Regions from separate parts of the Homo sapiens genome. Here region 2 is linked to region 1. Evidence: fine-mapped expression QTL. A gene starts in region 1. The other region holds a variant in brackets. All regions are shown on one strand. Distances are between the middles of the regions.

Evidence for each region. PIP is the estimated chance that this variant, and not a neighbour inherited with it, causes the effect. A credible set is the group of variants that fine-mapping cannot tell apart.
Region 2: its variant is the best candidate, but not a certain one, in a credible set for the expression of GEM in tibial artery (GTEx, PIP 0.51).

Annotation. Positions count from the first base shown.
Region 1 is chr8:94,260,091-94,264,347 of GRCh38, reverse strand. It overlaps GEM (GTP binding protein overexpressed in skeletal muscle), which reads left to right and starts at 2,029. Exons shown (of 5, transcript NM_005261.4): 1 at 2,029-2,258; 2 at 3,836-4,175. The coding sequence starts at 3,845. RefSeq lists silencers at 2,718-2,787, 3,929-4,072.
Region 2 is chr8:94,136,586-94,140,842 of GRCh38, reverse strand. The region is part of intron 15 of CDH17 (cadherin 17); the gene reads left to right. Among named protein-coding and RNA genes, the nearest start is that of CDH17, 70 kb to the left of the region's middle. The variant C/A (reference allele first, on the strand shown) is at 1,776.

The DNA.
Region 1 (4,257 bases):
CGGCTATTTTTTTGTATTTTTAGTAGAGACAGGGTTTCATTACGTTGGCCAGGCTGGTCTTGAACTCCTGACCTCGTGATCCACCCACCTCAGCCTCCCAAAGTGCTAGGATTACAGGCGTGAGCCACTGTGCCTGGCCAGAATTAGGTTTTTATAAATGTGAAGTATTAGATTCTTATCAATCGGCAAAAGTAGAACTGAGGAACTATATCATATGCTTATAAACTGATTTCTTCTTAGTTTTTACTCCTATGATGTTTCTGTTGAGACCAGTTGACAGAGTAGGAGTGTCAGTATGGAAAAAGCATGGATCATTTTGAAACATGGATTATTCATCAATTACATGTGTTTTAGAATGGAGTCAGTGATATACTCTTGGAGATGATCTCCCCCACCCCCCATCTCCTCTCCTTTTCCTTTCCCCACATCTGTAGCCACTTCCTGTCAGCGAAACCCAGAAGAAAAACTTGACAGAAGCAAAGGGCATCCAGAGAATTATGATCCCCAGGTTGTAGTTCCAGTTCTGTCATGTCCTAAGCGGTCATCTCCTCTCTGGGTCTCAGGTTTCTTATGTATAAGATAAGTAGGAGATTGGGGCCACAACACCTGAGACTAAAGGAATTCTAAGTTTTCATTACTCTATGGATTCCACCTTTGCTAGCTTGGGACCTGGCAGGTCTCAGCAGCTGGTCATGTAGCTAATTCTCAAAGCAGATAAATGCCTGCAGGATAACTGTGAATTGACTCTAATCACAGCAGAGTCCAGCTGCTTCAATAGATGCTGGTGCCTTTGGCTGCTTCCCGGAGCCACCAGCCAACCCAGAGTTGAAGCTGGCTGGAAAAGCAGATATGTTGGAGAGGCCAGCATCATCTCTAAACACAGCATCTGGGAAATACCCATGTCCCCAGAAAGAGGTCATTGAAATCCTTCACTTGGTGGTGCAGTGCAGAGACTCAGGAAAACCAGGCTTTGAGTCCTGACCCTGCCACTTATACCAGCGGTGTGACCTTGGGCAAATTCTCTGGCCCTATGTTATCTTCCTCCTCCATACAATGAGGGTAGAAATAGAGCCACCTTGCAGAAGTATAGTAAGGATTAAGGTCCCAGGAGGCCTAACAGTACCTACTAAGCAGAGGTCCTCAGAGGTACTTAATAAATGGTAGTAGTAGTTATTATCCTGTGCCCTTTGTTCACAGGAGTCTCTTACAGGGGTGTTGGTCTCAGTGCTCCTCCCCATGGCCAGGCTGTATTGGCTCATGCCCAAGGCGTAGCCTTGCCAGGGAGCCTGGTACAGAGATGCTGCTGATTGGGATGCTGATTAAATTCCCTGATTGAGGAGCCTCAGCATTCTGGCCCAGAGCAGGAGGGCCAGCAATATTTAGCACAATCTGCTTGGATCCTCAATTAAATTGTTTTTCCAAACTGCCCTTTTCAAGGTCTTGTCCTCTTTCCTCACCTCTTTCTGGCCCCTTCTCTCTGGGTCCTTGCCAGAGAAGGGAAACAAAGCCTTGTGGGGCTCCATCTGCTTCCCCCTATCCAGAAGAAGGTGACAAGGCTGTCTTCGTTGCAGAAGATGTGGTTAAAACAAGCCTTGGCTATTCAAGGTGGCTGCAGTCTCATCCTGGAGGCTAAAGTCTCTGCGCATTCCAGGTTGATCTCTGTTTTCTTGGCAAAACTGAGTTCTCAACTCAAACCTGCCTCTCCCTTCCATCCTTTATCCCGACAGCTCGCAAGTGCTTTGCTGGGAAGGACGATTAAGTGTCACTTAGTGTATTTTTCCATTTTCCTGTGTTCATCTGGTAAAAAGAAAATAAAACAAAATAAAGGAGGCCCAGGATTGAACTGTCATTATTTTTTAAATGGAGAGAGAAGGGGTCACATGACTGCGAGTAACTGATTTAGCCAAGTGGCTGCAACTCCGAGTTTGCTGCAGAGCCGCCCCCTCCCGGCGGGGGCGCTGACGTCACGGAAAAGCCCCGCGGCGGGTCGGCTGGGCTGGTTATAAACCGCCCGGCCGCGGCGGCTGCAGGCGGCGGGCAAGGACGGCGGGCACAGCGCAGCACTCCCCGCTCGTTGGCCCGGGTATCCCAGCGCGGACCCACGCGATACGCTGACGCCCCGACGCCGATCCGGCCGAGCCAAGTAAGGGGGACGGCCCGAGACGGAGAAGGGAGAGAGTGGGAGTTTCCCAGCCCGCAGAACTTTCGAAGTTGAGAAAAGAACCCCTGGAACGTGCGCTCAGCACTGGGATTTTCTGGTAGGGGTCAGAGCTTCAAGTGCAAAGGATGTCGCTTCTCATCAGCAGGTTCCTTAGTTCAATTCGGTAGAAGGGTCACCTCCCTCTACAGATCGAGTGGTCAGAGAGGGCAGCCCTTAATGATGCTTTATGTATTTGTTGTTTGAATGTAAGTCTGCCAACTGAGGTGCTGCTTTTGAGACTAAAAAACCGGCTGGTCGTCCTGGTTAGTGGCGAGATGTTGGGGTACGGAGTGTGGGGGTGAGGGTGGGAGAGGAGTGTTTGTGCATCTTGCTGATTGCAACGTAAGTACTTATACTTTATCACCAGTAGCCGGAAAAACAGACCTCCCGGCTAGGGGAGGCAGTCTGCAAAGGGAAAGTTGTAGAGAAGTTGTTGAATATCATTTAGGGGAGTCTTCAGCCTTCTGATTTGCTTCAAGAAGGGGATCTGAGAATGGTGGCTCAGGCCTGTGATCTCAGCACTTTCGGAAGCCGAGGCAGGAGGATCACTTGACCCCAGGAGTTCGAGACCAGCCTGGGCAACATAGTGAGGCCACTGTCTCTACCAAAAAATAAAAATAAAAATAAAAAAACTAGTGGACGTGGTAGTGCAGGTCTGTAGTCCCAGCTACTTGGGAGGCTGAAGTGGAGGATCTCTTGAGCCTGGCAGTTGGAGGCTAGCTACAGTGAGCTATGATCGTGCCACTGCACTCCAGCCTGGGTGACAGAGCAAGACCCTGACTCAAAAAAGGAATCTGAGTTGAATTAAAGAACTCTTGAGAATGGATGTGGTTTTTTAAGAATGAGGCACTTTCTCTGCAAATTTCATAGGTCTGAACATGAGCAGGTCATTTCTCTGCCAGGGTGTCTAGGTTTGGAGCCGGGATGTTTTAAAAGTGGTATCTGTGGGTAAGAGGGCACAGCTGAGGCATAAACTTTAAACAGAAAATTTCCCCCCTACCCCCAATAATGGCAGGTGGATGCTCTCCAGGCAGCTGGAGAGCATCAAGGCAACTTTACTAAACATGGAAGTTCCAATAAGTGCCTGTCCAGTCCAGCCAGGGTTGCAGTGGGCAGGGGAGGGGAGGGTGATGTCATTGCCACGTGTTTCCCACTGAGGCACAAAACCTGCTGGACACTGGTGCAATTAAGAGCCAAGTTTAGACAAGAGCAGCTAACCTGACCAGCTGGTCCCCAGCAACATTAACTTGTTGCTTTTCAAGCCATCTTTGGAGTCTGCTGGTTCTTTCCAGCTGCCTTTGTGCCAGCTCTGAGTGCAGCTCTTCTTTCATCCAAGTCTGCTTTGAGGAAGGGGGAAGCCCATGGGCAGTGGGTGATGTTAACCGTATTTGTTTTCCCATGCAAATGATAGTCTGCCTGAGGAGCTGGTTACTGACAGTGTGGGCAGCATGTGTGTGTCCAGTTGAAAGCCTGTCTTGTTGGGGTTTGGGGGACTGTTTAATTGGTGGTCTTTATGTTAGGGATACTTGCTTCTCATCTCATCTAATAAAATATTACTGATGACTGACCATGTATTTGAGCGGAGCTCTCACTCATGCTTACTAATGCTGCCATCTTGGCTGCTTTGCTCCCCAGGACTCAACGATGACTCTGAATAATGTCACCATGCGCCAGGGCACTGTGGGCATGCAGCCACAGCAGCAGCGCTGGAGCATCCCAGCTGATGGCAGGCATCTGATGGTCCAGAAAGAGCCCCACCAGTACAGCCACCGCAACCGCCATTCTGCTACCCCTGAGGACCACTGCCGCCGAAGCTGGTCCTCTGACTCCACAGACTCAGTCATCTCCTCTGAGTCAGGGAACACCTACTACCGAGTGGTGCTCATAGGGGAGCAGGGGGTGGGCAAGTCCACTCTGGCCAACATCTTTGCAGGTGTGCATGACAGCATGGACAGCGACTGCGAGGTGCTGGGAGGTAGGTGTCCCAGCCCCAGTGGGCTTCTTTCCACCAGGGGTGGCCCAGGAAGAAAGAGTGAGGGTGGGTGACTTATTTACCC
Region 2 (4,257 bases), 120 kb after region 1:
ATTCAATTTATATATTTCTTTTTGGTTGAGCTTGTACCTTTCAAATAATTCATCTATTTCATTAATCTAATGTATTGATATAGTTCATATTTTATTAATATCTGTAGAATATGTAGTGATATCACCTCATTCTGATATTGGCAAATTATCTTTTTTCCTGATAATCTGGCTAGAAGTTTTATTGATATTTTCAAAGAACCAGCTTTTGGTTTCATTGATTTTTTTTCTGTTTTTGTTTTATATTTCACTGGCTAGATCTTTATTGTTTCCTTTATTCTTCCTACACTGTGTTTTTGTTCGTGTTCTGTTTTCATTAAGGTGGAAGCTGATGCCATTAATTTGAGATCTTTTTGTTAAACAGGCATTTAGAGCTATAAATTTATCTTAGGTGTCACATTAGCTGCATTTTTTTTTTAATAGACAGGGCCTCAGTCACCCAGGCTGCAGTGCAGTGGTGTGATCATGGCTTACTGCAGCCTTGAATTCCTGGGCTCAGACGATCCTCCTGCTTCAGCCTCCCAAGTAGCTGGGACTACACGTATGAGCTACCACACTTGGCTAATTTTTTATTTTTAAATTTTTTGTAGAGATGGGGGTCACACTATGTTGCTCTGGCTTGTCTCAAACTCCTGGGTTCAAGTGAGCCTCCCACCTCAGCCTCCCAAAATGCTGGGATTACAGGTGTGAACCACCATGCCAGGCCCACAAAATTTGATACATTGTGTTTTCCCTTTAGATTTCTTTTGTGATTATGTGTTATTTAGAAGTGTGTTATTTAGTTTCCAAATATTCTGGGAATATTTCCTATACCTTATACCTTTCTAACTTCTAATTTAATTACATCATAACCAGAAAACATGACTAGAATACTTTTAAATTTATTTAGACATTTTTTCTTTCAGTACTTTGAAGGTATTTCACCACCCCCCCTTTTTTTTTATTTATTTTTTATTTTTTGGAGACAGTCTTACTCTGTTGCCCAGGCTGGAGTGCAGTGGCACAATCTCAGCCTCCCAGGTTCAAATGATTCTTGTGCCTCAGTCTCCCTAGTAGCTGGGATTACAGGTGCACACCATGATGCCCAGCTACTTTTTGTATTTTTAGTAGAGACAGGGTTTTTCCATGTTGGCCAGACTGGTCTCAAACTCCTGGCTTCAAGTAATCTGCCTGCCCCAGCCTCCCAAAGTGCTGGGATTATAGGCATGAGCCACCGGGGGTGCCCTGCCCACTATGGTTCTTCCTTGTTCCATTGAATGTTTGTATTCTTTTTTCTCTGGGTGCTTTTAAGATATTCTCTTATTACTTTTAAGTAATTTGATGTTCATATTGCCTTGATGGCATTTTATTCATTTTTCTTATTCCTGAAGTTTGATGATCATCTTGGATCTGAGGATTTGGAGTTTTCATCTAACATGGAAAAAATATTAGCCATTGTCTTATCAAAAATGTTTTTCTCTCCACTATCTTTCTTGGCTTTCAGGAATTCGATTACACATGTATTAGGCCACTTGAAGTTGTCTCAAAGCTTATTTTTTTTCTATTTCTTTTTGGATAGCTTTATTTCTATATCTTCAAGTTTACTGTTTTTTCCTGCTATATTCAATGGCTATATTATAGCCATTCATCCAACCTAGTCTATTTTTATATCAAACTTTGTAGTTTTCTTCTATAAATTAACTTGGGTTTTTAAAATGTTCTGTATCTATCTACACTTCTCAGTCTTGTAGCTTCTTGAACATATAGAATATAATTATAACTGTTTTCATGTCTTTTCC[C/A]ACTATTTATGTAATATGTATAATTTCTGGGTAGGCGTCAATTGATCTTTTCTCTCATAGGTCATATTTTTCTCTTTTACTGAATGTCTGGCAATTTTTTATTAAATGCCAGACATTTAGATGCTGAATATTTTGTATTCCCATAAATATTCTTGAACTTTATTGTGAAATACAGTTAGATCATTTGGAAAAAGTTTGATGCTTTCATGTGTTGCTTTTAAATTTTCTTAGATAGGGCCAGGGCAGCATTTATTCTAGGGCTAATGTTTTCAAACTTGTGAGGTGAAGCCTTCTATGTATTCTACCTGGTAGCACATGAATTATGAGATTTTTAGCTCTAGGGACCAGGAATGATTCCTGGCTCTTTGTGAGCGCTGTGTTCTCTAATCTTTTTAGGTGGTTCTTTCCCCAGCCTTGAGTAGTTCCTTCATATAAATACACTGATCAGTACTCAGCTAAAGCCTTAAGAGACCCCTCTATAAATCTCTTTAGTGTGCATTCTCTTTGCAGCTCTCTCTGGGACTCTGCTCTGTAAACTCTAGTTTCTTAACTTTGCCTTACTCCTGTGCTCCATCACCTCAACTCAGGGACATCACTGGGCTCTGTCTGAGCTCCTGCTCCCTGCAACTGATACCTGGATATTTGCTTTGGGTGGTAAGCTGAGGCAATTATAAAATTTACCTCATTTGCTTTCCTTCTTTCAGAAATCACTGTCCATTGCCTAATATATAAATCTTTAAACCCATGGTTTCACATATTTTTTGTTCTTTTAGTTGTTTTTGGTGGAATGGTAACTCTGGTCCCTGTTACTATATCTTATCTAGGTGGGCCATAATAATTTTTAAATATGCATATTTAAATCTTCCCAAATTTGGGAAAATTTCTTGGCAGATATGAATAGGGAGGGCATAAGTGTGAATTGTAGCAAAATCAAATTTTTGTTTAGAAATTTGAAGTTTAGTGTTTTTGTACTCTCAATTTTCTATTTTAAAAAAGGTGGTAAATGCCCTGAAAACCAGGTATAATATCATGCATACCCTTATTTCTGGACTCAGAGGGATTTTGAGGCCTATAAATGTTATGACTTACCCAATTACATAGCTAACAAGCAGCAGATTTGAAACCCAGAATCAGGTCTACAGAAGCTCAGTCCCAGGTACTCTCCAATCTTCTGACACATACAGTCGATCCCCATTATTTGCAGATTGTGTTTATAAAATAATCTACATGATAAAATTTGTAACCCAAAAGTCAGTACTTACAGGAGCTTTCGCTTTTGCTTTCATGGACACTGGCAGGGTGGTGAAAAATACTGGACACACATATTCCCAGCTCTCACATTGTTAAGTTAGTTAGGTTTTTTTTTACTTTTTGCAGTTTATGTAGTGCGCTGTTTTTCACGTTTCTGTGCTTTTCATTGGTGATTTCATTGTTTAAAATGGCTCTGAACTGGGTGGGGTGTCGCCTCACCTAGGAAGCACAAGGGTGAGGTGATTTCCCTTTCCTAGTCAAGGGAAGCCATGACAGACTGTACCTGGAAAAACAGGACACTCCCACCCAAATACTGCACTTTTTCCAAGATCTTAGCAACTGGCAGAGAAGGAGATTCTCTCCCGTGCCTGGCTTGGCAGGTCCCGTGCCCACAGAGCCTTGTTCACTGTTAGCACAGCAGTCTGAGATCAAATTGCAAGGTGGCAGCCTGGCTAGGAGAGGGGCATCCACCATTGCTGAGGCTTCAGTAGGTAAAGCGGCTGGGAAGCTCAAATGGGGTGGAGGCTACAGCAGCTCAACAAGGCCTACTGCCTCTATAGACTCCATTTCTATGGACAGGGCATAGCTGAACAAAAGGTAGCAGATAACTTCTGCAGACTTAAACATCCCTGTCTGACAGCTCTGGAGAGAGCAGCGGTTCTCCCAGCATGACATTTCACCTCTGAGAACAGACACACTGCCTCCTCAAGTGGGTCCCAAACCCCCATGTAGCCTAATTGGGAGACACCTCCCAGTAGGGGCTGACTGATACTTCATATAGGTGGGTAGCACTCTGGGACAAAGCTCCCAGAGGAAGGATCAGGCAGCAATATTTGCTGTTCTGCAATATTTGCTGTTCTGCAGCCTCCACTGGTGATACCCAGGCAAACAGGGTCTGGAGTGGACCTCCAGCAAACTCCAACAGACCTGCAGCTGAGGGACCTGTTAGAAGGAAAACTAACAAACAGAAAGGAATAGCATCAACATCAGCAAAAAGGACATCTACACCAAAACCCCAACTGTAGGTCACCAACATCAAAGACCAAAGGTGGAGAGAAACCAGAGCAGAAAAGCTGAAAATTCTAAAAACCAGAATGCCTCTTCTCCTCCAAAGGATTGCAGCTCCTTGCCAGCAACGGAACAAAGCTGGATGGAGAATGACTTTGACGAGTTGACAGAAGCAGGCTTCAGAAGGTTGGTAATAACAAACTTCTCTGAGCTAAAGGAGCAC